Linked DNA regions of Homo sapiens. The protein of the gene in region 2 purifies or fractionates together with the protein of the main gene of each other region. This does not show direct contact. Each region holds a gene or a part of one and is shown on either strand. Other genes may lie near its edges.

Region 1 (4,247 bases), on a different chromosome or scaffold from region 2:
TAAGTTGAATTATTTCCAAAATGAAACAGGCTTCTCAGGGACATATCCACTTCTTCCCAGTCTGCCTTTGGATTAAAGCACCAAGCAGAGACCACATTAATTCCCTTTGCTATACTGTGATCCTTAGTATGTTAATTCTTAAGAAACCAACATATCACTGAAAGAAGGCTGGCAGAACGCAAGTGCATTTTTTCACTGTGGGAAGAAAGATCAAGTGACGTATTATTTTTTCCTGGTTGTCACTTAATGGGCTGAGTAAAAAGCTTGAAAACTCAGACTTTCGGTCTTGGTTCTGCCACTCATTGGTTATGAGGAGGCCCAGAGCAGGTAAGTTCACCTTCCTGGCCTTACTTTCCTGATGTGTAATACGGAATTACTTCACAGTAGCATGACAGTATAAGACACCAGCAGTAGATACAACTATGATGACATTCCATGAGTTGGTATTTTTAGTTCTAACTGCTAAATTTGTTCTCTTTACGGGACAGATTTCTAATAAAGTGCTTGGTCTTAAAATACATGGTTGGACAGAGGTGCCCTATCCCTTAACTATGAGCAGGTGCTACCTTTTGGGATATTTATTTTAAATTTTAATACTTTGGTACTCAATTGTCAGTGTTCCATGGTGTGTATTTTTATTTTTGGGATTAGTGGGGGTCTAAAGGGAGAAGAATAGTCTCTAATTACTACCTCTTAACCTAAAGCAATTATTTTGTTCCTGGAGCAAGTTAAATCTTTGTTGGAAGGAGCTTTGGCCATATATTTTTTAGCATGCATTGTTTCTGTGCCCTGAAAGTACCTGAAAGGTTTTAAGCACAGACTCAGGAAAATGTGCCAGTAGAACAGGCCATCTCCAGGAAATTGGCTCTATTTGGGTCCTGACCTTCCCTTCCTCCCAAGTTAGCAGGCTTGTTCTTTCGCAAGGAATACACATCTTGCCTTTTTTTTTTTTTTTTTGCCATGTTTTCCTTTTCTTGGTCATGTATAAGCAATAAAGCTGTTTTTTGTTCTTCATCTTTCTTAACCCCAAATTTTCTTCTATGCCTTAGGCTTCGATGGTTCTTCCAACCCCCTTAATATGGCTTAGGGTGGTTTTTCAAAACCTACAATCCCCCATTTGCACTACTGGCCATGGAACATTTATTTCTAGTGTTCCTGCCAATCAGAGATCTCTATATTAAATTCTAAAATGGGATTAAAAGAAGAGTTGGAGAATTCACACTTATTGAGTAACTGATGTCATACAACCTGGAATTTCTGAATTCCAAATAAATAAATTTCACTCTTTGAACATTTCATCTTTTACTTTTTAGCACCAACAGACTTGATAACAGCCTGATGCTGATCTGACAATGGGTTGATAGCCTTCCCCCACTGACCCTTAAATCTGCTTAGTAACAAGTCCTTTGCTTCTGTCATTCTCCTGGGGGATGGCCTACTGCCCTCCTTTCTGTACAATCTGGGCAAACCGACTGGTGATGGCAAGAGTGGTGTCAATGAAGCGGTCTACACAGCTGGAGAGACAATTTTCAGTGCGAGAGTCTAGGCGATTCCCTGGCTTCTCCACACATTTATCCCAACATAACTCCATGAAGTGATGCACCTAAAAGGAAAGAAAAATAGTAACCATTGGGGTCTGCAGATAGGCCTAACTCTTGTTTATTAACTTCTCACTTTTTGACACCTGACAAAACCATTCTTTAAATCAACCACGGAGTCACTTTGGGCTCTTCTCTTTCTTCATTTCCTAATTAGTCACCAATATTGATCCAGATCCTCGTCCCTACAGATTGTACATTCTCAGGTAGGACTAATAACCTTTTATATTCCCCAAAGTAGCTAGCACCATTGTGAACCAACTAGGGAACCAATTAATTTTCCCAAACTATTGCACTCATTTTATTCCAAACCTATCCCCTAGACAAGGTAATTCTTCCATTAACCTTTTGGGGGTTATGGATCCACTCCCCAGAAAAATGCACATACAGGCACAGAAATTATGTGCACTGTCATTAGAATGTTCAGGGCCCAAAGATTTCTAGCCAGGGTTCTTGCTGGTCATCCGAGCACCCTCTTCCTCCCACCCAAAAGGAAAAAACCATTTTACCAAGAGCTTACTATTTGTGAGGCTGGGTACTAAGAAATCAGTTCTCTCTAAGGTCCTCAAGGATAGCTGTCATCACCTCCCATTTAAGAGGCGTGATTATGTAGTCCAAGGTCATGTAGCCAGCAAGAAGTCAGGCCGCGTTAGAACCATGTCCGAAGGGCTCCAAACCCTTGTTCTACATCCATAGTCTACAGCGACTACTTCAGAGTCCACCTTCCTCCGATAATGTTCTAGTCGTTTTCAAATACATTGTCGCATATGATCCTCACAATCCAGTGAGGCAGTGGGGTGACGGCGACACCAAAACCCACAGTGGATGAGTATCTTTTCTACGGGCACGTGGCCTGCAAGGAGCAGAGGGAGGATGAGAACCCAGATCTTTCGAATGCCAGCCCAGTCATGTCGCCGGCTAACTAGTCTCCCGTACCCTTGCGTCGCCCAAATCTTCCCTGTTTTACACCTTTTCTTTTCTCCACGCTACGCTTATATACCTGGCACCTGAGCACTACCGGTCACCAGGGACAGGAGAGCCATAACTTTGTCTTTCGTGAGGGGAATGGGATGCAGCCGGGATCGAGCACCAGTGAGCCGCCAGTGTACAGACCTCCGAGCGTGCCCAGGACCACCAAGGAAGGTGAAACTTCCTTTCCCTTCACCCTCCCCGTCCCCGCACCTGTGCAGTAAACTGCGCCTTCTGCTGCTCGGCGGCCACCAGGCGCTGCAACTCCGCTTCATCGGCTTCGCCCAGCTCCGCCATTGTTCGCCTCAGGCTCGCCACCTTCCGACAGCTGTGTTTGCGCATGCGCGACGGGTGTGCACCGCCTCTCGACTTCCGGTTCACCCAGCATTTCCTCTTCCCTGTTTTCTTTCGTCGTCGTGGGTGGGAATTGTCGCCTAAGTGGTTCCGGGTTGGTGGATGACCTTGAGCCCTCAGGAACGAGATGGCGGTTCTCTGGAGGCTGAGTGCCGTTTGCGGTGCCCTAGGAGGCCGAGGTGAGGGGTCTTCCCACCCTGAGGTGCTTAGCGTAGCCTCCAGCCAGGGAAGGGGATGGAAGTGAGGACTCATCTGCCGGGTGGGAGATCTCTTGAGGAGAAGAAAATACCGAAATCACAGCAATGACCACTGTAGTCTAGGGGTCCAGATGTTTACCCGAAGGTATATTTCACTTGCTGTGAGCTGACGAGTTGAGGGAATAATCAGAAAGAGAGCTCCCTCTGGAAGTCGCAGTCCTGATGAGGCTAATCCACATAGCAGTTCTGTTTTCTCCCCGTTCACTGTCCCTAGAATGCTCCCCACTCGCTCCCACCCTGAGTCGGGAAAGAGGGTTAGGAGCTTGCCCATTTCTTCTGGAGTTGGTGTGTTTGGATGTGGGAGTGGAGGGGGGATCAGTTCGAAAATCATTTAACCTGGGCATTTGTGTTACCTCAGGTACTGTAGTAATGCTAGGATACAAATGTGAAGAAAACGTAGTTCCCGCCCTCAACGAGCTTTCATTCTGATGAGGAAAACACTGTCATAGTAGTCCGGGCAAGATGAGGTCCTGAACTAGGAAAGTAGCACAAAGAAAAGAAGATTGTCTCAAGAACTGTTAAAGAGATACGCCAATAGGATTTGGCGATTGAATTTAGGGGAAAAGTCTCTCATGATTTCCAGATTACTGAGTTAGGTTAAAGAATGCCTGAGGTGTCATTAAATAAAGTAGGGAACATGCAGATGTTCCCTGGTCTTAACTTCACAGTAACCCCAGTGAAATAGATGCTATCTTCATTTTACAAATAAGATGTTATCCCCTATTTATTGTTAAGTAGCTTACCTATGGTCATTTAGAAAGTTTGTCAGTCCTGTTAAAGGAGAGGTTCTTATGATCATCCTAATGACTCTTTCCTCAGCTCTGTTGCTTCGAACTCCAGTGGTCAGACCTGCTCATATCTCAGCATTTCTTCAGGACCGACCTATCCCAGAATGGTGTGGAGTGCAGCACATACACTTGTCACCGAGCCACCATTGTATGTTCTCTCCATCGCTGCTGCTTTCTGGGCTCTAGCCATCTTTACCTTCACTAATGGTCATGCCTTTAGCAGGACTTCCTACCTGTAGGGGGGACTCTTGTGTCCAACTTTGTCAAATGAAGACCTAGTT
Region 2 (3,940 bases):
GATGCTCCTGGCAGGAGGACGATGGCCTAGGTCCATGAGGCACATGGCTTGGCTCAGGGGGCTCCTCCGAGTCCATCCAGGTCATCCCACTGGCCAGAGCGGCTGGCCACAAGCCGCAGACATATGCACCGAGGCAATTTGTTGATGCATTGGCTTGAACTGCCATTTGGTCCCTGTCCTATTCCTGGACGATTTGATTTAACTTGACAGCGGTTTACTGAGCAGTTATTATGTGGCAGGGTCTCTTGCCCACTGGTCCCTAGGAACAAAGGGCAGACTCAGAGAGCAGCAGGAGGGAGAGAATTGGTGTTTGTGATTCACACGGTATGTCAGCATCCTGAATCAAAATCTACTCTCCCTCCCCACTTCTCTCTCTCTTATTGTGTTCACTTCCCTTCCCTTTTTTCCCTCTTCTTCCCCTCCTCCTCACCCCCTTCCCTTCTATTCCCATTTGTCCTCTCCCCATCTCTATGTCTCATCTTATTTTTTCTTCCCATATGGTCCTCCACCTCTCTCTGCTTTTTCTCGGTGTCTCGGTCTCTTTTTCTGTGTGTGCAGTTCTCACCTCTGCCATTCTTTTGGGCCCCTGTCTTTTTCTCTGTGTCTATATCTCTAACTCTCTCTTTTTACATCTCTCTCTCTATGTCTCTTCATCTCCATATCTCTCTAGCTTATCCTCTTTTTGCCTTTCTCCCCATCCCTTAATTGCACCAGATAACAAAAAGGGTGGCGGTTCCATCCAAACCTTGCTCTTGAAAAACGTTCTTTTAAATATGCAGTGAATGATCCCACCAGGACCACTGCCTGCAAGGCCGTCTTTCCCTCTGGTCTCTGCACAGCAAATGCAGCCGACCACCAAACGGGACCCTCATCCGATTCTGTGCTTTGATCTTTGCCAGGCTAAAGTGTGGGTTTACTTTCTGTTCAGAACCCGAGCCTCCTTCCCATTGATCATTCGTCTTTCGTTACGATGCTAACACCTAACAAGGGGCACCGCTTTTCCAGGTTCAGGGGCTCCCTTTGCCAACCACCTGGAGACCCACAAGGGTGAACTTTACACTTTCGAGTGTGGGGCAAAAGCTTCTGAAATGGTTTCAACGTCAGGAATGTGAGAGTTTGGGAGGTTATCCGAAAGACACTCGATACATATTTAGGCCTCAGGATGGTTTGTGGCGTGGTCAGCAGACTGACTCTGAAATCTTATTCTGCTGTTTCCTTGCTTCTTGGTCTTGGCCCAGTCTTTTAGACTCTGAGCCTCTGTTTTCCCCATCTGGAAATGGAACTAATAGTTCCCAACCCACTGGATTCTCTTCAAGAGAAGAGAGAAATAATTGAGATAAAGTGGACAGCAAAGAGCTTGTCCCTTCTCATAGCTACACCCTAAATGAGGAATGCGATGGACTTAGAGAATTCCAACTCTGCCATGCTCTGTGACCACGGAGAGGCACTTTGTCACTTGATCCTCACCTTCCCATCTGGATCCCAAGCTGTAATATTAGCCCCTGCCCCGTAGGGTCCACGGGAGGCACCTGGAGTGCACGGGGCTGGTGCAGAACAGCGTCTCAGTCCTTGCTGGCTGTTAGGATGGTTGTCATTGCAGGGTCATTGAAACAATGGCATCTCTTTAGTGGGAGTCACGGTTCAGGTGTGGGAGGCTGGAGTTCTGTCTCCATTTCCCTCGTGACTCATGATATGACCTTAAACAAGTGACTTCATTTCTACCTTTTCCCATTTCCTCTTTCATCAAATAGGGGTAATCATATGCGCTAAAGTGCTCAGAGAGATAATTGCAATGTTAAATCAAGCCATTATTATTCCATGCTGGCTTTTTAAATAAAAACGCTTGCGGCTCCTCTGAGCCCTCAGCTGACTACAATATAGAAATATCATCGAGAAGCCAAGACGTCAAAAAGATCATTCCCTTTCAAGGAACTCTGGGCCCTGGGTGAAAAGAGGGTCTACCTTGTGCTGGCCCTTTAAGCAGTGCTGTCTCAGTGCAGGAAGATGATACACCCCAATCACAGATGAGAAGACTGAGGCTTGTGGAGGAGGTGGCACCAAATGACCGCAGAGCCCATGCCTTTCCCTCTCAAGGAAAAGGTAAATCCCAAGGCAAGCCTCCCCAGGTCCTCTCAGTATTTGCCAGGAGAGCAGTCCAGGCAACTAGAAAGGGCTCAGGGCTGAAGAATGGGGCCAGTTGCTTCCTGCCTCTTCCATCAGGAAACCCACCTGACCTCCTGGCAAGAGATCCATCCACTAGCAAGGCATAAAAAATGTTTTATTATTTAAGAATATGTTCAAGTGCCTGAGGACTCAAGAAAATTAGCTTAAAAACTATTAGAATCATAAAATGTTTATAAAACCAGTCAAAGTACGGTCAGCAAACCTTGTCTGTAAAGGACCAGAGAGTAAATATTTTGGGCTTTCTTGGCCCTACAGTCTCTGTTTCAGCAATTAACTCAGCTTTTGCAGCATGAAAACAACCACAGACATAGATGCAAACAAAGGGGCATGGGTGTCGTATTAGCCAAGGTTCTCCAGGGAGGCAGAGCCAACAAGGTGTGCCTATCCGCAGAAAGAGATTGACGTAAGGAATTGGCTCATGTGATTAGGCAGGCTGGTGAGTCTGAAACAACCCCACCTGTTAGGGGAGAATCACCCCACTGCCCCATCAGCCCCTCTTTCCCCTACTGGGCTATTACAAAGCACCCGAGGTAGCAGCTGAGAAAAAGCTTCACAAACTGCCAAGTGCAAAGGACTTTTCCTTGTGTGGCCTCCGGGTCCTTGGCCAAGTCTGTGAAAGAAGACCATGCAGGCCCTCCATCAGGGTCAGATACTGACATCATGCCTCCCGCTTACCAAGGGGGCTTGCTTCCCACTTCTCATCCCGATGATCGGCAAAGTTCCTTTCCTCCTTGGCCCATCCCTAATCAGACATGATAGGCAGGCAGGGCTCTCTCTTATGTGTGACTTCCCAGCTCCATTCCTTGGCAAATCCCCATCAGAAAGGTCGAAATGCTTCCCCTGGGGCCCATCTGACATTGTTCAGTAATGTATTTATCCTATAAAAGGAAGGAAATAGGATCACCTATGAAATTGTGAGGGCCAATGTGTCTCTACTAGGGTCCCCTTTTAACCCGGAGGGATCTGGACAGGAGCCCAACTCCCCCATTCATAACTCCAGGTGAACTTGGATGAGCAAGTTCCCCTTTCTCAGCCTCAGTCTGGCCCTCTGTAAAATGGATATTAAAAGAAAAACATGCACCTCTGGGGCTGCTGTGAGGATTGGAGCTAATATGTACAAAGCAGTAATGCACAGCCTGGCACCCAGTAGGCTCCTGAGAATCGGTGGCTGTTGCTGGGTTGACAGGATCATGGATGAAGGGCATTCAGCCCAGACCAACACCCAGCAGGCCCTCCGTCCACGGCAGTGAGTCATGCAGCAGCATTTTTTGTTTCTGCAGTGTGCCAAGCTCTTTATGATCTCTCCTTTTTGCCCTCTTCTTTTCCTATCCCCTACAGCTCAAGTAAGACTAGACTGGAGTCTTCATACTCCCCTCTCCAAAGCACCTACTATGTGCCAGGTGCTTCAAGCACAAGCTAGGTGCTTCAAATGTGATCATTTATTTAGTTCCTATGTCCACCCTCTGAAGCATTATTATTAGCCCCATTTTGTAGCTGAGAAAACTGAGGCACAGTAAAGCTAAGTCATTTTCCTAAAGTGGTGGTAAGTGGTGGGCTGAGACCTGAGCCCACTTTACTGACCACTTGGTGATCCTGCTTCGGGGTCAGGAAAGAATTTGAGGTCCTACCTCTCCTTTCTCAACAGCTGTGTCCCTTCCACCCCATGCTGCTTCTCCGAGTTAGAGTGGGTAATTCAGGGGCTGCAGACTCACTTGTCTGTCAGGCAGTCGGCAGTGAGGGAAGCCCCAGGTGGTTC
Region 3 (4,637 bases), on a different chromosome or scaffold from region 2:
GCACCTAGATGAAGGGGTAAACAGTTCTGTTTATAGAACTTACAGAAAGTGGAACTGAACTGGAGGATGAGCTCAGAATCTCCAACCTCATTCCACTCTACTCTCCTTAACTTAGTTCTAGCCATGTAGATCATCCTCTAGTTCCTCAAAACTACCAAAGTTCTTTCCCACTTTAGGGTTTCCATACTCTACCTGGACCTATCTTTGTCACACTTGTCCTCTGGCTATCTCCTACTCATTCATTAGATCAGTTAGTATATCACTTCCTCAGTTAGCCTTTCTCAGACTCCCCAGTTCTCCCTTATTTTTCTCAGAGCAACCTTAATTTCTTTATATCATTTTTCACAATATGTAATTACATAACCACATGTGGTGGCCGGGTGCGGTGGCACACGTCTGTAATCCCAGCACTTTGGGAGACTGAGGCGGGCAGATCACTTGAGGTCAGAAGTTCAAGACCATCCTGGCCAATATGGTGAAACCCCGTCTCTACTAAAAATACAAAAATTAGCTGGGCATGGTGGTGGGCACCTGTAGTCCCAGCTACTCAGGAGGCTGAAGCAGGAGAATCGCTTGAACCCAGGAGGCAGCGGCTGCAGTGAGCCAAGATGTGCCACTGCACTCCAGCCTGTGCAACAGAGGATACTCTGTTTAAAAAAAAAACAAAAAAATCTGTGTGGGATTATTTGTTCTAAGTCTCTCTCCTTCAGTAGAATGTAAGCTCCATGAGGGTAGGCTATATTGTCCACCATGGTATATATTCAGTGCTTTGTATAGTGCTAGAGACATAGCGCTAAATACACATTTATTGAATGAACGAAGGAGTAGCAGCAGCAGGCTGACTCCCCTGATCACCCAGCTGGCCTAGTTTCTGCCATCACTTTGCCATCCCAGAATGACTCAGGTAGAGTCCAGTCCAGCCCAGCGCCCAGAGCGACTGTCCTCTCCTCTGCAGCATTTCAGATCCTCCTCAATGACCTGGTTTAGGGAGGCAGACATAAGCGCCCCGTGAGTAGAGTTAGAGACTTTCTCAGTGGCTCCCTACAGGAATGATATTACCTTGGGGGTTTTGAGCACAAATTTCTGTTTGCTTTCATCAGGACCCAGCTGTGCCTTCAGTTTCAGGAGTTTCGCCACCTCCTCCTCGATCTGTGGAGGGAAAGAAGGCGCTGAGCTATCCATCTGTCACTCTCCTCCCTCCCCCGCCATTCATTCAATATTCCTCCCTCATCACATCTCTCTGCTCAGGCCTAGCTTTGTTTCTCTCGGGACCCACCCCGGATGTCTCCCCACGCAGCCCACTCTCCTCCCTACAAGACTGGTCGCTTCCCTCACATCTCTACCCTATGTCCCGAACACCCTGGCTTTACGTCCTCCCAGGCTTTGCCTTGGCCCTCTCCCCTGCTGCCTAAATCTCACCAGCTCGGCGCTGGCCTTCTGCTGCTTGAGGCCTCGCACGCGCTCTCCCTGAAGTTTCACCAGCTCCTCCAGCGCCGCACGCTCTGCCATCCCGGCTGTCCACTTGAGCCGCCTGCTGTCTCGACCTGCGGTGGTTGCCCCAGCCTCAGCAAGGATGACTTCCGGCTATCGAGTCGCTGGGTCGCACGCCTAGAGAGCCTCCGCCGAGCACAAAAATTATTTCCGGCTCCTCCCGGAAGTGCCGAAGCTGGCTACTAAGGGAACTTGGGAGGATCCCACCTCAGCCTTCGTGACTAGTGAGGTGCGCAAACGCCCGAGTTTTCCCTGGTGCGCGGGTTCCGCCTTTGCAGTGCCCTCCACCCTTCCTGGTGTCTGACCCGCCTCCTTCCCAGGCCTTTTGTTCCTGTCCCGGAAAGCCGGCGTCCTGCCGCGCGATGCCCCTGCTCGGACTTCTTCCCAGGAGGGCCTGGGCTTCGCTGCTCAGCCAGCTCCTGCGACCGCCCTGCGCTTCGTGCACCGGGGCGGTCCGTTGCCAAAGCCAGGTGAGCGAGACAGAATTATCTCTGGTCTGTCCCAGCAGGGTCTCCAGATCTGAACGCATAGCCTCGCGGCCTGTATTCCAGTAGTGTTACAATCGGTTTTTATCGAGTGCCCACTATGTACTGACACTGAACTAAGCGATTTGGATGCCTGGTCATTTAATCCTTGGAGCAATCTTGAGAGGTTGGAGTTTTGATTTCCATTCTGCAGTTGAGGAAACGGAGGCTGCAAGATTAAATGAATGACTTATACACGGATATGTAGTAAGGGAGTATTTTAATTCATATCCACACTTTTTCCTGAAACTCTTGGACTCAAACAGTAACATTTTTAAGCGAAATATATGAATATTCCTAGTAAATGAGATGACTAAAGATCAGAAGTAGACTGAGTTCATCTTAGAATTTACCTCAAAATGAATCTCAGAAAAACATTTTCAGATGTCAGAGAGTTTTGGATTTTGGAATTGCAGATAAGGGATTGTGTACTTGAACTTGGACTTCTCTTAGGGCAGATAATCGCCATAGTATGGAACCACCACATCCTCTATTTTTGGAAGGGCATACAGCGTGCTGGTAATGTCACTGATTAAGTTTTGCCTTACTTCGGAAAGATTCTAATGCTCTCTTAGCAGATGCTTTGTGCTATCGTGAACAATAGGGCACAGATCTTTTATTGATATTCAATCACAGCATCTTATCAGTCTGAGTTTTTTAGCTCATTCAAGAAATCCATATCTTATCATTCCACAGGCTTGTTCTGTGTCCTTGAGCTGGTTCCCTTGTCTTCAAGTTACAGTTTTCCTCTCTCTAAACCTGATAACCAGTGCTACCTTATTAAAAATTATTATTTTTTTGTCCGGGCACAGTGGCTCATGCCTGTAATCCCATCACTTTGGGAGGCCAAGGGGGGTGGATCACCTGAGGTCAGGAGTTTGAGACCAGCCTGACCTGTATGGCGAAACCCCGTATCTACTAAAAATACAAAAATTAGCCGGGCGTGGTGGCATGTGCCTGTAATCCCAGCTACTCGGGAGGCAGAGACAGGAGAATCGCTTGAACCCGGGAGGCGGAGGTTGCAGGAGCTGAGATCGTGCCACTGCACTCCAGCCTGGGCGACAGAGTAAGACTCTATCTGAAAAAAAAAAAAAAATTATTTTTGCTCTTTCAGTAGGAACGGTGACCTGGAGAAGATCACCATAATCCCTACCCCTGAATGGTTGGTGTTGGTAGTGGTGGGTTGTTCAGTGCCTTCATTATTCTCAGATTCTTAAAGTATTTGAGAATATTAAAAATGCGGCTGAGCTCGGTGGCTCATGTCTGTAATCCCAGCACTTTGGGAGGCTGAAGCGGTTGGATCACGAGGTCAGGAGTTCAAGAGCAGCCTGGCCAACATGGTGAAACCCCATCTCTACTAAAAATACAAAAATTAGCTGGGCGTGGTGGTGGCGCGCCTGTAGTCCCAGCTACTCGGGAGGCTAAGGCAGGAGAATTGCTTGAACCAGGAGGCAGAGATTGCAGTGAGCCGTGATTGTGCCACTGTACTCCAGCCTGGGCAACAGACCGAGACTCTGTCTCAAAAAAAAAAAAAAAAATCCATATACAGTGAGGAAGCTTGTGTGGTGAAGACCTGACCTCATATATATTACACGTGTAATTGTAAATACAACATAGATTCTTTGGGGTGGGACTGAGATTGGGATAGATGAAATGGTGCTTTGGCTTCCTGTTGCTCAGGGTGAAGAGTCTTTGCAGGTTGGTGGTCAACAGGGTCAGAGATGCCACAGGTCTGGCCAGTGTCCAGAGAAGCCACATCTCACATTCATTCTTCTGCCAGGTTGCAGAGGCAGTGTTAACATCCCAACTGAAAGCACATCAAGAGAAACCAAATTTTATTATCAAGACCCCAAAGGTAATACTTTTTGCCTACCCTATCCCATTAGAGTGCCTTGGAGGACTGACCTCTGCCTTGCATGTCTCTCTGACCCCTTTTAATGTTCTTTACAGTAAATTTTAAAAATATATACTATTCTTGAGATACTAGGTGCGGCTCAGAGTCATTTGAACTCAGTAGATTTCAGCTCCAGACCTGAGATTACATAATAAGTGTAGTTTAACTCCTTGTCTGAAATGGACTTATTTTTTGTTTTTGTTTTCACTATGGCTGCTTTTGGTTTCCAGGGTACCAGGGATCTTAGTCCTCAGCATATGGTTGTGAGGGAGAAAATTCTTGATTTGGTTATCAGCTGCTTTAAACGTCATGGAGCAAAGGGGATGGACACCCCAGCATTTGAGCTGAAGGTAAGGGGAGAAGAAAGAGTACGTGCAACCTCACTCACTTCTTCAATGGCGTTCAGTGTCCCAAAGGGCTTCTCATCTGTGTTTTGGAGTCATGCTTTCAACTGTGGCTCATTCTGTTTGACCCCTATAGGAAACCCTGACTGAGAAGTATGGAGAGGACTCTGGGCTCATGTATGATCTGAAGGATCAAGGTGGAGAGCTGTTGTCCCTCCGCTATGACCTTACTGTATCCTTTTGAGTACTGGAGCCTGACCTGTCTCTTTCCAAATCCAGCGGGCTTTCTCTGACAAAAGTGGAGAACGTGACTTTGGGATCTTAGAGGTCCATTGCCTATACTTCTAGTTTCTCCCAGAAGGCAGTTCTGCTACGGAAGCCTGG
Region 4 (3,940 bases), on a different chromosome or scaffold from region 2:
CAAAGTATGTACCGTATCTAACATTTGCAGAGATGGACTTTTTTCTTTCTCACTTAGATAATACCTTTAACATATTAGTCATCAAATATTAGAGCTATAAATTTAGCATGGTAAATATGCACATTTCAAGTAGCCTTAGTTCTGAACACAAGCAAACAACTCAAACACGAGCAAGACTTACATATCTTGCAGTTCTTGCATAACAATCCGGTCAATCATGTGAGGCATGTGAGCAGGGACTTTCCGCGATGTGAATCCAAACTTGCTATTTAGAATTTTATTTACATATCTGAGGGAATCTGCAAATGTATCTTTTAGTTGCCTCCCAGTATTTTTGCTATCAGTGAAGTATGCCAATTGTGTCTTCAATGACTCTTCTTCCTGAAAAGAGAATTCTACATGTAACTCAGCATTATGTTTAGTGCACAAGTGTACTTTGTTACAAGACATTTTATATAATGTGGTAATAACTAGTCACGAACTCTTCATTAGGAGCAAATGAAATACATGTTAACGGGTCACTTTAAGGATCTAAACTGGACTTAGCAGGACTCAACTGGATTTCAGTGCAAGTATCACCAATGTTGGTTTGAGAACAACAGCTGTACGATGGAGATCTACATAACAACAGTCACATATGGAGGGTATTCTTCAAGGACTGGTCACTGACTGTGAGATGTCAAAGCTAATTCAATGCAACATTTAGAAAATTTATGTACATATACATTTGATAGTACTTTCAATATCAAGCTATTTCTGCAGGTGATATCAAATGTGCAAGTCCTTGAGTTTTAAGCGCAAGGACTAGAAACAAATTTGGTTTCATCTTATAATAGTTTTAATATTATAAAATCAAAACCAGTCAGTGGCAGAACTAAATAGGCAAAGAAAATTGGCAAAGCATTCAAACACTTTACAGAAATATTTTTGCTTCTCAAACTGATAAAAATAAAAATGTAAGGAGACTGATATTAACTGGTGTTGGTTAGACTGCAGTGAAACAAGCACTGTTGTATACTGTTTGTGGAAATATGAAGTGGTGCAACATTTCAGAAAGACATATTTAAAGTTTATACCTGCTAAGCTAGTAATTCTACCTGCAGAACTAAAACTCACTGAAATGTAAGATATATGTACAAGAGAATTCACTGCAACACTATTTGTAATCACAAAACATTGGAAATAACTAACCTGCAGCCATTAAAAAGAATAATGGCACTGGCATGGGTATAAATAAATAAATAAATAATGGCATTTGCCCACATCCTACTACATCAAAAGGCAACTGCAGGGAAATATATGTAAATTTACACTATACATATATTTCTCTATATATAACTATACATACATATAGGTATGTTTGCATAGCTATAGAAAAATACTGGAAGAATACCCATCAAACTATTAACAGCAATTATCTCCGGGAAGGAGACTGAAGAAGGAAGAACTTTCCTTTATTTACTGTATATTTTTGAATTGTTTGCAATTTTTACTACTAGCCTATAATGCTTTTGTAAATTTAAAAAAAAAAAAAAAAAAAAAGGAAAGAGGCCAGAGGCCAGGCACAGTGGCTCACGCCTGTAATCCCAGCACTTTGGGAGGCCGAGGCGGGCGGATCACCTTAAGTCAGGAGTTCGAGACCAGCCTGGCTAACATGGTGAAACCCCGTCTCCACTAAAAATACAAAAAATTGGCCAGGCATGCTGGCACATGCCTGTAATCCCAGCCACTCAGGAGGCTGAGACAGGAGAATCTCTTGAACCTGGGAGGCAAAGACTGCAGTGAGCCGAGATCACGCCATTGCACTCCAGCTTGGGAAAAAGAGCGAAACTCCATCTCAAAAAAAAAAAAAAAAGAAAGGAAAGGAAAGAAAATGGGGGAAACTGAGGAAATAAACATAGTCAAGAACACTGCAGTCCTTCACTAGACAATCTGTAAATGCCTCATGTGCAAGGCACAAGATACTTCCTAAAATGCTGAGGACATAGTTCCTCCTTCACTCTCTTTTCTCCCAGCCTAACACCCACTCGTGGCTGTGTGCCTTCACTATTCAGCCCAGACTGTATGATTTTTTTTTTTGGTCTGTCAACTCCCACCCCTTCGAAGGTCAGTCCACAGGGCACTTCCTTCTGTATGCCTTCCCTAGTACTTCTAGGCAGAGCTAAGGAGTCCTCCCTCTGAACTTCTTGCCCATATCTCAACACAGACACATCTCTTTGCTACAGTTTTCTCCCCACAAATTTGTCTTCTCTACTGGTCCCTGAGTTTCCACATGAGCAGTGGCTATGTTCCCGTCATCTTGCATTCCCCAGTGGTTAGCACCGTGAGAGCACTGAGGAGAGGTACAGATGACACCACAGCACAGTGAAGCCATGGTACAGGGCAACGAGCAGTCCAACTTTGAGGCTTGGCTCACACTGATTTGCTGTTATAATGTTGGGGAAGCGAATGAACTTAATTGAACTTCAGGGTTTTTCATCAGTAAAGCTGGAAAAATACCATATCTGAAATGTCAAGACAAGACAACATGCCACTTCCCACTCTCCTTCCTCCAAGTACGCCCCTGGCTAAATCCCTTACTCATTCACACTTGGGCTGTTTCCTAAACTACAAAATGGGGACAGCAATAATAAATACCTTCATATGACATTTTTTATTATTAGGGTTATTGGGTAAATTAAATGAAACCATGTAAGAAAAGCATTTAGTTCCATGGCCGGCACAGGGAAGTGCTGAATAAATGGTAGCTATAATGATATTATCATGAGATTATTTACTCTTCCTGAGCATGAGAAAGAATGAGGCTGGATGTTACTTACGTCGAGAAGATCTTGGAAATACTTTTTTTTCTCCCATGGCAAAAAGCCCAAGTAACTATCTGTGTAATGCTGCAGCTTTCTTCCAAGTAACACTTCAGTAACGCCTATGTGATTTTCAGCATTTTCCTCCATTCTACTGTTCTCTTTTTCTTTCCCTGTGATTTTCTTTTCTTTTGTCATCTGGCTTTCCAGTGGAACAATCAGAGATGGGGGCTTTTCTTTTGTCACATTTCCGCCTATGGTTTTTTGGGTGTGAGTTTCCACTCTAAATCTTGCTGTGGTCTCCAAGTCCAGGGGTGGATTCTGACCCTGGTCATGACCATTCACTTTTACACTCACTGCAGGAAAAGTCAACCTCTGCAATCTTTCAGACACTCCTAAGCTGTTTGGCAAGATGCTTTTATGAACCTGTTTTTCCTGTGGAGCCACCAAACTGTCATTTGTTTCATCTGTTATTATAGCTTGATTTTTTATTTTAGCATGCTGTGAGTTCATCAGAAATGATCTCAGCAAGGCTGACTTGGACAAATTGTATCCTTTCAAAGTGATGTCTCCATGTTCCAGTTGCAAATCCAAGGTATTGAGACTCAACTGGGCGTCTTTTGGAAGGAGTGAAATATTTACCAGGGGAATTTTCACCTCTTCCTGGGCTCTCCTTGTTGAGTTAACATCATGTCTCTTAAACTTCGGGAAGCGTTTTTCTTTGGGAATATCCTCAAAAAGGATTTCCGCCTCTGGAAGAAGTGTTATGGGACTAACTAAATTTTCGTAACCCTTCTGGGCTGTAGAATTCAGTTTTGGTCCCTCCCTTGTGTCCACCTCCACTGTTATCTGCATTTTGAACTCTTCATCGTTTGTATTTTGAAACGTGAGATTAAAATGTATTGTGGTGGCATTCATTCCACTGTGCATTATGAGGTGGATGGTTTTCCACTTGTTGGCAATAGAAGCATGTCGAATTATTGGATTGTCACTATAGGCACCTTCAACTCCTCTTTTGGCTACTTCTGCAAAGCTGAAATAAGGCAGGCATTCACCTTTTGGAATAATATAGTGAGTCTGGTTTGGGAGAAGGATCACTTTATACAATTCATGAAAATGATCTAGAGGAAAAAACAGAA
Region 5 (3,940 bases), on a different chromosome or scaffold from region 2:
AGCGGAAGGTCTGCTCGTGCTGGGTCACGTTGTGGAACGGGCAGAACTCATACTTGTACCTGGGGACACAGATGGCATGAGGGGGGTCCGCAGGCTGCGCCCCAGCCCACCCTCGCACCCACCCTGCACTCACGTGGACTCCACCAGGCTGAAGCACTTGCCCGAGAGTCGGAAGAGATGCACGGGTCCTGGAAGAGACCTCACACTGATCCCCAGGGTCCAAGCACAGAACCTGTCTGCAAAGACTGGCAGAGTCTGTTTTCAAAGGACCAGTTTTCTTTTTTTTTGAGATGGAGTCTCACTCTGTCACCCAGGCTGGAGTGCAGTGGCATGATCTTGGCTCACTTCAAGCTCCGCCTCCCATGTTCACGCCATTCTCCTGCCTCAGCCTCCCAAGTAGCTGGGACTACAGGCGCCCGCCACCATGCCCGGCTAATTTTTTGTATTTTTAGTAGAGACGGGGTTTCACCGCGTTAGCCAGGATGGTCTCGATCTCCTGACCTCGTGATCCACCCACCTCGGCCTCCCAAAGTGCTGGGATTACAGGTTTGAGCCACCGCGCCCGGCCAAGGACCAGTTTTCAACAAAAAGCACAAGACGTTCAAAGAAACAGGAAAACAGGTACCATTCAATGGAAGAAACTGACAAAACCGAGAATTCTAAAAATAGCCCTTCAAAAATTAGAGTTAAGGCTTGCTATCGTGGCTCATGCCTGTAATCCCAGCACTTTGGGAGGCCAAGGCGGGAAGATTGCTTGAGGCCAGGAGTATGACACCAGCCTGGGCAACACTGTGAGAACCCCGTGTCTACACAAAAAGCACACAGAAAAAATGAGCTGAGTGTAGTGGCGCGCACCTGTAATCCCAGCTACTCAGGAGGCTGAGGCAGGAGAATCTCTTGAACCCAGGAGGTGGAGAGTGCAGTGAGCTGAGATCGTACCACTGCACTCCAGCCTGCGTGACAGAGCAAGACCCTGTCTTCCCCACCCCCCAAAAAAGAGGACATTCCCAGATAAAAGCTTCAGGAGTTGGTTACATGCAGGCCGGTGTGCCACCCGGGGAAGTGAGCAGACAGCAGCTCAGCGGAGGCAGACGGAGGTCCTCGTGCAGGGTGAATTAATACCAGTTGCCTTTCTAGCTATGGTCTGTAAAGCTACAGGACTTAAACCAGTGGTCCCCAATCTTTTTGGCACCAGGGACTGGTTTCATGGAAGGCAGTTTTTCTACCAGCCGGGGGTGGGGATGGGTGGTTTGGGGATGAAACTGTTCCACCTCAGCTCATCAGGCATTAGATTCTTTTTTTTCTTTTGGAGACAGTCTCACTCTGTCACCCAAGGTGAAATGCAGTGGCGCGATCTCGGCTCACTGCAACCTCCGCCTCCTGGGTTCAAGTGATTCCCCTGCCTCAGCCTCCCGAGTAGCTGGGATCCCACGTGCCCGCCACCACGCCCAGCTAATTTTTGTATCTTCAGCAGAGGCGGGGTTTCACTGTGTTGGCCAGGCTGGTCTGCAACTGTGGACCTGAAGTGATCCGTCCACCTTGGCCTCCCAAGTGCTGGGATTACAGGTGTGAGCCACTATGCCCGGCCTGAAAGACTAACTTCAGATTTAAAGACATAAACAGGTTGAAAGTGAAGGTATGGAAAAGTATTCATATAAACAGGCAAAAGAGAGCTGAAGTGGCTGAAACTATTTTAAGAGACAAAGATGTTATACATTGATAAAAGGGTCAATGTGCCAAGACACCACAATTATCCACGCACAAACAGTGCCACCCACTACATAAAGCTGACATGAGACATCCATACGCCACTTTTTTTTTTTTGAGACGGAGTCTAGCATTGTCGCCAGGCTGGATTGCAGTGGCACGATCTTGGCTCACTACAATCTCCACCACTGGGTTCAACCGATTTTCCCGCCTCAGTCTCCCCAGTAGCTAGGATTACCGGTGCCTGCCATCACGGCTGGCTAATTTTTGTATTTTTGTAGAGACGGGGTTTCTCCATGTTGGCCAGGATGGTCTCAAACTCCTGACCTCAGGTGATCCACCTGCCTCAGCCTCCTAAAGTACTGGGATTACAGGCGTGAGCCCCAGCGCCCAGCCTGATGGATTCAATATTTTTAAGATGACAATACCACCCAGAGTGATCTGCAGATTCAATGCAACCCCATCAAAACCCCAATGACAGTTTTTGCAGAAATAGAAAAACACATCCTAAAGTTCATAGGGAGTCTCAGAGGACCCCAAATCATCGAACAAATCTTAAAGACAGAGTTGAGAGACTCGTACATACTGATTCCAAAAATTACTTCAAAGCTGTTATGATCAAAACAGTGTGATACTGGCATAAAGACTGGCATAGAGGCCGGGCGCAGGGTCTCACGCCTGTAATCCCAGTGCTTTGGGAGGCCGAGGCAGACGGATCACGAAGTCAGGAGATCGAGACCATCCTGGCCAACATGGTGAAACCTGATCTCTAATAAAGTACAAAAAAATTAGCCAGGCGTGATGGCGGATGCCTGCAGTCCCAGCTACTCGGGAGGCTGAGGCAGGAGAATTCCTTGAGCCTGGGAGGTGGAGAGGTTGCCGTGAGCCAAGATCGTGCTACTGCACTCCAGCCTGGGCTACAGAGTTAGACTCTATATGGAAAAAAAAACAAACCCATCAAGGGAGTGAAAAGACAACCCACAGAATGGGAGAAAATAAACACTGGCAAACCACGTATGTAAGAGACTCACATCCAGAACACAGAACTACAGCCCAACAATAAACTCAAGTTAAAAATGGGCAGAGAAGCCGGGAATCCCAGCACTTCGGGAGGCCGAGGCAGGCGGATCATGAGGTCAGGAGTTTGAGACCAGCCTGGCCAACATGGTGAAACCCCGTCTCTACTAAATAAAAATGAGCCAGGTGTGGTGGCTCACGCCTGTAATCCCAGCTACTTGAGAGGCTGAGGCAGGAGAATCGCCTGAGCCTGGGAGGCAGAGCTTGCAGTGAGCCAAGATGGCGCCACTGTACTCCAGTCTGGGCCACAGAGTGAGACTCCATCTCAAAAAAAAAAAAGGACAAACACCATAAGCAACTGAAAAGATCCCACATGACTGATCATTAGGGAAATGCAAATTAAAACAACCCTAAGGTACCGCTTCACACCCACTAGGATGGCTGTTAGCAAAAAACAGTGTTGGTGAAAATGTGGAGAAACTGGACCCCTCGTGCAATGCTGGCTGGAATGGGAAACGGTGCAGCCACTATGCAAACAGTTTGGTGGTTCCTCAAAAAGCTAAACATGGAATTCTAATAAGATCCAGCAAAGCTACTCTCAGAAATTGGAAGCAGAGACTCAAATATTTACACCCAAGTTCACAGCAGCCTATTCCCAGGCAGAGGGTGGAAGCCACTCCAGTGTCCATGGACAGATGACGGGTAAACAACAACGTGGTCTGTCCTTGCAGTGGAACAGTCCTCAGCCATATAAAAAGGAAGCACTGAGAGCCTCCAGCCTGGGGGACCTTGGGGACACTGTGCCAAGAGGAGTTGGTCAGACACAAAAGGTCGCACACAGTTATGAGTCACCTATGTGACGTCTATGAATAGCCAAGTTCAGAGACAGCAGAATGGTGGGTGCCGGGGCTGGGGGAGCGGGGCAGCTGGGAGTCAGGGTTTGAAGGGGACAGAGCAAGTTGTGGAGATGATGGTGCTGACGGTTGCAGGGCAGTGTCACCAGCGCCTGGGGGAAGAGGGAAGGCGTGCAGCGTCCCTACCCTCCAGCCAGGCCAGCCCCAGGCAGTGCTAGAGCAAGGGCGTGTACACATCAAGGCCAGTGGCAACTCGTGAGTCAAGCCACAGCAGCCACCCTGTTCTTTAAGCTGGGGAGTCGGGACCTGGCTGGGGACGCCACCTTAACACAGCGCCCACCGAGACTGTCAGCCACGGGCCA

What was found.
Region 1: the proteins of PDYN (region 2) and TIMM8B purify together in Homo sapiens (affinity purification with mass spectrometry; 3 studies listed by BioGRID and IntAct, with this or other methods). This does not show direct contact.
Region 3: the proteins of PDYN (region 2) and HARS2 purify together in Homo sapiens (affinity purification with mass spectrometry; one large-scale study listed by BioGRID and IntAct). This does not show direct contact.
Region 4: the proteins of PDYN (region 2) and GNPTAB purify together in Homo sapiens (affinity purification with mass spectrometry, with the first as the bait; one large-scale study listed by BioGRID). This does not show direct contact.
Region 5: the proteins of PDYN (region 2) and GNPTG purify together in Homo sapiens (affinity purification with mass spectrometry, with the first as the bait; one large-scale study listed by BioGRID). This does not show direct contact.

Annotation. Positions count from the first base shown.
Region 1 is NC_000011.10:112,083,860-112,088,106, forward strand, and holds TIMM8B (mitochondrial import inner membrane translocase subunit Tim8 B), read right to left. Parts: upstream 2,898-4,247; 5' UTR 2,865-2,897; coding exon 2,781-2,864; intron 2,452-2,780; exon of another isoform or gene 2,108-2,451; intron 1,604-2,107; coding exon 1,436-1,603; 3' UTR 941-1,435; downstream 1-940. Other genes in the region: SDHD (succinate dehydrogenase [ubiquinone] cytochrome b small subunit, mitochondrial isoform a precursor), read left to right, coding at 3,049-3,100, 3,998-4,114. UniProt on the Homo sapiens protein: Probable mitochondrial intermembrane chaperone that participates in the import and insertion of some multi-pass transmembrane proteins into the mitochondrial inner membrane.
Region 2 is NC_000020.11:1,987,503-1,991,442, reverse strand, and holds part of PDYN (proenkephalin-B preproprotein), read left to right. Parts: intron 1-3,940.
Region 3 is NC_000005.10:140,689,796-140,694,432, forward strand, and holds the start of HARS2 (histidine--tRNA ligase, mitochondrial isoform 1 precursor), read left to right. Parts: upstream 1-1,659; 5' UTR 1,660-1,853; coding exon 1,854-1,961; intron 1,962-1,999; exon of another isoform or gene 2,000-2,222; intron 2,223-3,695; coding exon of another isoform or gene 3,696-3,713; exon of another isoform or gene 3,714-3,795; coding exon 3,796-3,870; intron 3,871-4,139; coding exon 4,140-4,259; intron 4,260-4,389; coding exon 4,390-4,485; intron 4,486-4,637. Other genes in the region: HARS1 (histidine--tRNA ligase, cytoplasmic), read right to left, coding at 1,060-1,149, 1,420-1,509. UniProt on the Homo sapiens protein: Mitochondrial aminoacyl-tRNA synthetase that catalyzes the ATP-dependent ligation of histidine to the 3'-end of its cognate tRNA, via the formation of an aminoacyl-adenylate intermediate (His-AMP).
Region 4 is NC_000012.12:101,761,383-101,765,322, forward strand, and holds part of GNPTAB (N-acetylglucosamine-1-phosphotransferase subunits alpha/beta precursor), read right to left. Parts: intron 3,923-3,940; coding exon 2,820-3,922; intron 382-2,819; coding exon 182-381; intron 1-181. UniProt on the Homo sapiens protein: Catalyzes the formation of mannose 6-phosphate (M6P) markers on high mannose type oligosaccharides in the Golgi apparatus.
Region 5 is NC_000016.10:1,357,991-1,361,930, reverse strand, and holds part of GNPTG (N-acetylglucosamine-1-phosphotransferase subunit gamma precursor), read right to left. Parts: intron 189-3,940; coding exon 134-188; intron 60-133; coding exon 1-59. UniProt on the Homo sapiens protein: Non-catalytic subunit of the N-acetylglucosamine-1-phosphotransferase complex, an enzyme that catalyzes the formation of mannose 6-phosphate (M6P) markers on high mannose type oligosaccharides in the Golgi apparatus.